Linked DNA regions of Homo sapiens. The protein of the gene in region 1 interacts with the protein of each later gene in a pairwise test. Each region holds a gene or a part of one and is shown on either strand. Other genes may lie near its edges.

The links.
Region 2: the proteins of GOLPH3 (region 1) and ARL6IP1 interact in binary tests that used the Homo sapiens proteins (3 or more experiments, as listed by UniProt).

What each region holds. Positions count from the first base shown.
Region 1 is NC_000005.10:32,123,967-32,126,851, reverse strand, and holds the end of GOLPH3 (Golgi phosphoprotein 3), read left to right. Parts: intron 1-215; coding exon 216-640; 3' UTR 641-2,136; downstream 2,137-2,885. UniProt on the Homo sapiens protein: Phosphatidylinositol-4-phosphate-binding protein that links Golgi membranes to the cytoskeleton and may participate in the tensile force required for vesicle budding from the Golgi.
Region 2 is NC_000016.10:18,795,025-18,798,857, reverse strand, and holds part of ARL6IP1 (ADP-ribosylation factor-like protein 6-interacting protein 1), read left to right. Parts: intron 1-23; coding exon 24-157; intron 158-813; coding exon 814-933; intron 934-3,276; coding exon 3,277-3,394; intron 3,395-3,833. UniProt on the Homo sapiens protein: Positively regulates SLC1A1/EAAC1-mediated glutamate transport by increasing its affinity for glutamate in a PKC activity-dependent manner.

The DNA.
Region 1 (2,885 bases):
GAGTGACTCCTGTGGCTGAGGATGTGCTGGGTGCTTAGAATCCAAAGGTCTGGCTAGGCTTAAGGGGTTCATGGTCTAGTTAGGGAGAAAAACATGGCAGATTTTCTTCTGTTTTTCTTGGGGCAAAATCAGATTTTACTGTTTAATAGTACAAAATTTTTGCAAAATTAGCAGATAATACTCATCATTTCTAACTTCTGAAATCTTTTGTTTAGGTGAGACATGGAATCCATTAAAATTGCATTATCAGTTAAGAAATGTACGGGAACGATTAGCTAAAAACCTGGTGGAAAAGGGTGTATTGACAACAGAGAAACAGAACTTCCTACTTTTTGACATGACAACACATCCCCTCACCAATAACAACATTAAGCAGCGCCTCATCAAGAAAGTACAGGAAGCCGTTCTTGACAAATGGGTGAATGACCCTCACCGCATGGACAGGCGCTTGCTGGCCCTCATTTACCTGGCTCATGCCTCGGACGTCCTGGAGAATGCTTTTGCTCCTCTTCTGGACGAGCAGTATGATTTGGCTACCAAGAGAGTGCGGCAGCTTCTCGACTTAGACCCTGAAGTGGAATGTCTGAAGGCCAACACCAATGAGGTTCTGTGGGCGGTGGTGGCGGCGTTCACCAAGTAACTCTGCTCGGGGTGAACCATTCTCCTTTCTCTCAAGTAAACCAGTAGTTTTTCTTCTGTTGACTTCTGGTTTTCTGTAATTTGTACTTTCCCACACTATAATTGGCTTCTGTTTTACAAAATGGTGGGTGGCTTTTTCTTTTTTGTACGTGTACAGGATTCTGCTGGTACGAGAGGCCTTCCTCTTTCTGTTTTTAAAAAAAGTTTTACTGCCATATTGGCATTCCATTCCCTGTTGCCATCCTCACTGTTACCTGTTTTGGGTTTCTGGTCTACTTTGACTTTCAAAGTACCTCCAGCCTCCTCATACGCACAGCTTTTGGATGACCTCAGCTTGAGTTTCTCCATATGTGCATGTACATCTAGCATTCTGCCTACAGTTCAGACAGAAGTCACAAAAAGGCCTTCAACTCACCAAAGGTAAATATCTGTATCTATTAGGACATTTTTTACATAGACTTCAGTTGAGATGTATACTTAGCAAAATTATTTTTAAATTGAAACAGCACAGTAAATACTTAATATAAAATGTCCCTTGGATTTTGCTTCCCATGTAAATCTATTGTATTATTACACTTGTTATAATTTTAACTATAAAGGTCCAATTGTTTCACAGAGCCAGTTTGGGATGGGCTGCATTCCATTTATGCTGTATATAGTTTGAATTATATATAAATTACCCCTTCTTCTGGCCACCCCTGCTCCCATCTTAGTATTTTGCAAGATCTAATCAGTTGTACACCTGGTGCCCCTCGCTTGCTTCAATCATGGTTATTTGATGGCAAAATCGACCTCTTGTCGCTGAAGGAGAGAGAAAAGATGTGTGTCTGATTGGTCCTGGGATTTTTTGAGCTGTGCCATTTATGGTACTCTTTGCCTATGCATCCCCTTGTTAGATTTTTTTTAAATTTTATCTTACTGTTTTTATAATTTCTATTGGGAAGAGGCTTGTGACCAGTACCAATCTTGAGTTTCTTTTTCTGTCCACAAGTAAATTAATATCTGCTCTGAAATGTCATTTATCTACTCACACATTCTTGGGGAAAAAAATCAAATGTCAGTCCTAGCAGATGTTGCATGTAAATTGGTAGCAAGTAATGATTACAACCCAGAGGATTAAGAATTTTGTAACAGAAAGCTCTATGTTTTAATTTTTTATATACAATTAGGATAATTAGCATTGTCAGACTATAAACCTTTGCTTTTTAAAGTTTATTTTTACTATTTCTTTATCACTTTATTGTATCATCACCATTGGTTTCATAATGTAAATACTATATGTTGAACAAATTAAATGTCAAAATTTTTTATTACCATAGTCCATGTTAATAGTGGGGCTTTCAGGTGTTTAGAGATTTTTTTTGTTGTTGTTAACATTCATTGCAAAAGTACTAGATGGTGTATAACTCTAGAGTTGAATTTTAAGGGATTCCCTAATATGTATACTATCTTTTTATCTGAAGTAATAAATAAACAATGATCTTGAAAGTGCCTGAATCAGAGCAAGCATGTCATTTGTGTTTTTGTATTCTCATTTAGTTTTCTTTCAAATGAAATGTTACTTACTGTAGCATTGTAATATTTTAATGCAGGGCTTGGGTTTCTTAAAGGGCCAGATAGTAGATATTTTAGGCTTTGTGAGCCGCCAGCTGTGTCAGTTGCAACTACTGAACTTTACTGAATGAAAACTGTTATAGATAATACAAATAAATAGGTTAGACTGTGTTCCAATAAAACTTTATTTGCAAAAACGGGGCTGGTCAAGGCCCCAGTTTTAATGCATGGAAAAAAGACAGATTTTTCTATCCATTGGAGTAACCTTCTTTACCTTCAAAAATGATACTGCTGGTGGTAACTACATGTAGGAACTATTAAAGTGTCTTCCCATAAAGTAGATATTGGGAAACTGATACCAGTATACTGGAATTTCTTATCGAGTGAAAAGTTCCTGTTTTTCACTTGAGAAGATGTTAGAGGTGAGGTAATAGATTTCTGAGGTATTCACTTCATCAGCAGCATCAGTATTCCCAAGCAAGGGGGAAAAGGACCTCACCTGAACTTCTGTCAGTGTTTGCATTAGACCAGAGTGCACACTTAGCTCTACCTGTGTGCGGCCCCAGCTTCAGTGTGTTTCTATTTCCAGAGGAGGAGAAGAGTAGTAAAATCTCGGGGGGGTTGTAGTGGTGTTATCAAGAACTCTTTGTCCTATGGAATATTGTTGCTTTCAGTCCTCTTGAAAGCAGGAA
Region 2 (3,833 bases), on another chromosome or scaffold:
CTTTAAATGTCGGTGGTATTTAGGCTGCAGAGACTGCAAGTCTGGAAGAACAGCTGCAAGGATGGGGAGAAGTGATGCTGATGGCTGATAAAGTCCTCCGATGGGAAAGAGCCTGGTTTCCACCTGCCATCATGGGTGTGGTTTCTTTGGTGTTTCTGTAAGTGAGCTATTAGATTACTATGGGTTGTGCTTCTTATTAATAAAGACTTTTTAATATATAGCTTCTGTTTGTGGGAGTGCCTTAAGTCTTCTGTAATATATAACCCATAAAGAACCCATAAAGAATGTTTCTCATAAGCACTTCTAGTTTCCAGAATTTGTAGTACTTCTGTAAACTTGGTAACCTAAAGCACTTGAGTAAATCAGTGACTCGCAAACTTTTTGTCCTCCAGACACTTAAACTCTTTTTTTGTTATTATACTTTAAGTTCTGGGAAACATGTGTAGAATGTACAGGTTTGTTACATAGGTATATATACATGTGCCATGGTGGTTTGCTGCACCCATCAACCCTTCATCTACATTAGGTATTTCTCCTAATGCTATCCCTCCCCTAGTCCCCCACCTCCCTAAACTCTTAAAAAAGTGCTGAGAACTCCAAAGAGCTTTTGTCCATTGATATATACTTAACCACTGCAGCTATGATATCAGCATGTCACAAAGCCTCTGGAAAGCCACTTGTGAGAAAATTAGAAGAAAAATGGCAAATATCTCTGAGAGGCGGTGAATAGTTAAGTGAATAGTTAAGTTAGACATGTTTAGTTAGGAATAATAATGACTATGTTTTTCTAACCTTTATTAATTTTTTTAACAGGATTATCTACTATCTAGATCCATCTGTTCTGTCCGGCGTTTCCTGTTTTGTTATGTTTTTGTGCTTGGCTGACTACCTTGTTCCCATTCTAGCGCCTAGAATTTTTGGCTCCAATAAATGGTAGGTAGCATAATGATTTGGCAGTCTCATTTTTGTGTAGTTACTGAACTTGGTGGCTGTGATTAGTATGCTGTAAATAAGCAGAGATAATTGTCTAACCATCAGACACCTAAGCATTAGATTTATTGCTTTTATGTGAAGAATATTGTAACTGATTTGAATATAAACTATGAATTTTCTGTACTCCATAGTTCTTTTATGGTAAATGCACATATACATTTTTACATTTCCATTGATATTTAGGATAGTATAATAACTTCACAAATTATTTTTGAATGAATACAGAAAAGGAAACTGGCAGATTTTCATTCACATTCATTTAGCAATTATTTATTAAATGCCTACTGTGGCAGGCCCTGTAAAGTACTGTGAAATATTTTGACTTTTAAGATTGATCTTGTGTTAAGGCTGAGATACTGAGACACTGAGGCAGTGGAATGGCAGTTAACAAAGTGAATACCAAGTGTTTCCGAAGAGGTTCAAGCTGTATACACATGGGTTGCTGATTTTATTTATACCATTCTCTTTTTTTTTTTTTTTTTTGAGATGGAGGCTCGCTCTGTTGCCCAGGCTGGAGTGCAGTACGCTCTTGGCTCACTGCATGCTCCACCTCCCAGGTTCATGCCATTCTCTTGCCTCAGCCTCCCGAGTAGCTGGGACTACAGGTGCCCACCACCACACCTGGCTAATTTTTTTTTTTTTTATTTTTAGTAGAGACGGGGTTTCACCATGTTAGCCAGGATGGTCTCGATCTCCTGACCTTGTGATCCGCCCGCCTCGGCCTCCCAAAGTGCTGAGATTACAGGCGTGAGCCACCGTGCCCGGCCTATTTATACCATGAGGTTGCTTATGAACTCCTCAGATATAGTTAAGTGGATAAGGATCATATTAAAAGTATTTTAACTTTCTCTAGCATGTTGAGTTTTGATTCAAATAATCAGCCAAAATAGAAGTTGGAATAGATATTTTCTTCTCAGCTGCTATTCTATCCTTGGCTGTTTATTTTATTTGGTTAGTATTCTACTTGTGCCTTTGGTTGTTTGTATCTCAGAGGATAGCAAATTGCAAAATAATTCTGTAAATATAAGAATTTTAAATGTGTACCTTATGGATCTTTAAGAACAAATTCAAAGTTTGCTTAAATTATGATATAATTGACAATATTTAAAGGTGTTTCCCCCAACAGCAGAATGGATTAGTGTTAGGAACTGTCCAAATTGTTTTTCACTTGCAGTAATGAATCAATGTTGTTGGCTCTTTTGGGCAAGTTTCTGAATGTGCAGTATAACAGAGTTAGCAAAGGAAATAAATCACTGACCTTGGCCTTATTAGCCAGATAACATTCCAGTCTGCTAATTTATAACTCCTAGAGGAAAGTTTGCAGAAATAACCACTGATAGTTTCGTGATGTGACTCAGTTATTGATAGAGCAGATTTTGTTTATTTTTTGATCTTACAAGGAAGAAAGAATACTCTTTTGCATAGCCACAATCTAGCCTTGACCATGGGCAAGAAATAACATCTCATTGTTGAAAAGAAGTTCCAGGGCTCAGCAGAAATCCTTGTACTTTATCTATCACTGCAGTTTTACAGAGATGAGGGCTAGAGAAGAGAAGGCAACACATCCCTCAGCACAGGGCAATAATAGCAGCCATTATAGCTGTGTAGCGAAGACAGTGCAAAGGCAATTAAAAAAATCAGAACCAAGAAAAACATTATAAATATAAAAGGTTTTCTTGGAGGGTCTCTTGTTGGATTTTTACTGCTGTGTTGTTTGTTGATTATATTTTCCCTCCCTAGGGATAAATTTACAAAGAAGAATTTAGATTTGAGCTGTTTATTGCTGCCTTGTCATCAGATGTATGAAGCCCAGTTGGGGGTGTTATGTGTTAAATGCCAGTAGTTAGTATCTTACTAAGGAGTGTTCAAATACAGTTGTTCGGTGGGATTCTGGTAGGTATAGTGCAGCATTTACTAGGATCTAAAGAATATTTAGGAATAGCAAAATCAAATTTATACTGATTTCTTTATGGCCCATAGAAGTCATGAGTCTTTTACTACCATTAAATAAATGTGGCTTCAGAGCCAGAGATGATCCTTTCTTTATCACACGCACACACACACACACTCTCTCTCTCACACACATAGTTTATGTAAATACTTACTCCTGTGCTATAAAAGGTGTCTTAATGGTGGAAGGATTTTTTCACCTACATAAGATAATGGTGAAACATTGTTTTTATTTTTATTTTCTTTAGAAGATAGCTCTTAAATTGAACAGGGTGTCATGTTTTTGTCTACTGTAACGATTTGTTTATAGCAAAAGGCAAATTTCTTTTCTAGGACCACTGAACAACAGCAAAGATTCCATGAAATTTGCAGCAATCTAGTAAAAACTCGACGCAGAGCTGTGGGTTGGTGGAAACGCCTCTTCACACTAAAGGAAGAAAAACCTAAGATGGTACTTTTTTTGCTTTGACTTAAGTACAGTAAAATTTTAAGATTTGAGTCAATTCGCCTTTTTGTCTTAATAGCTATAATTTGAAAATTATTCATTGGTTAATTCCTAAGTACATTCATAAATGTTTACCTGTATTAATTAGACTGAATCATTTTAAAGTTAAAAATTACATTTTTGCATTTAATTTTTTATTCTAATAAAACAAAATTCTTCTGTTTCATTTTTCTTACTGAAATAATAGTAAAAGACATATACTTAGAAAGCATCTGTTTAGGCCGGGCACAGTGGCTAATGCCTATAATCCCAGCTACATGGAAGGCTGAGGATCACTTGAGCCCTGGAGGTCGAGGCTGCAGTGAGCTGTGTTTGCGCAGTGAGCTGTTTGCACCACTGCACTCCAGCCTTTGTGACAGAATGAGACTCTGTCTCAAAAAAAAAA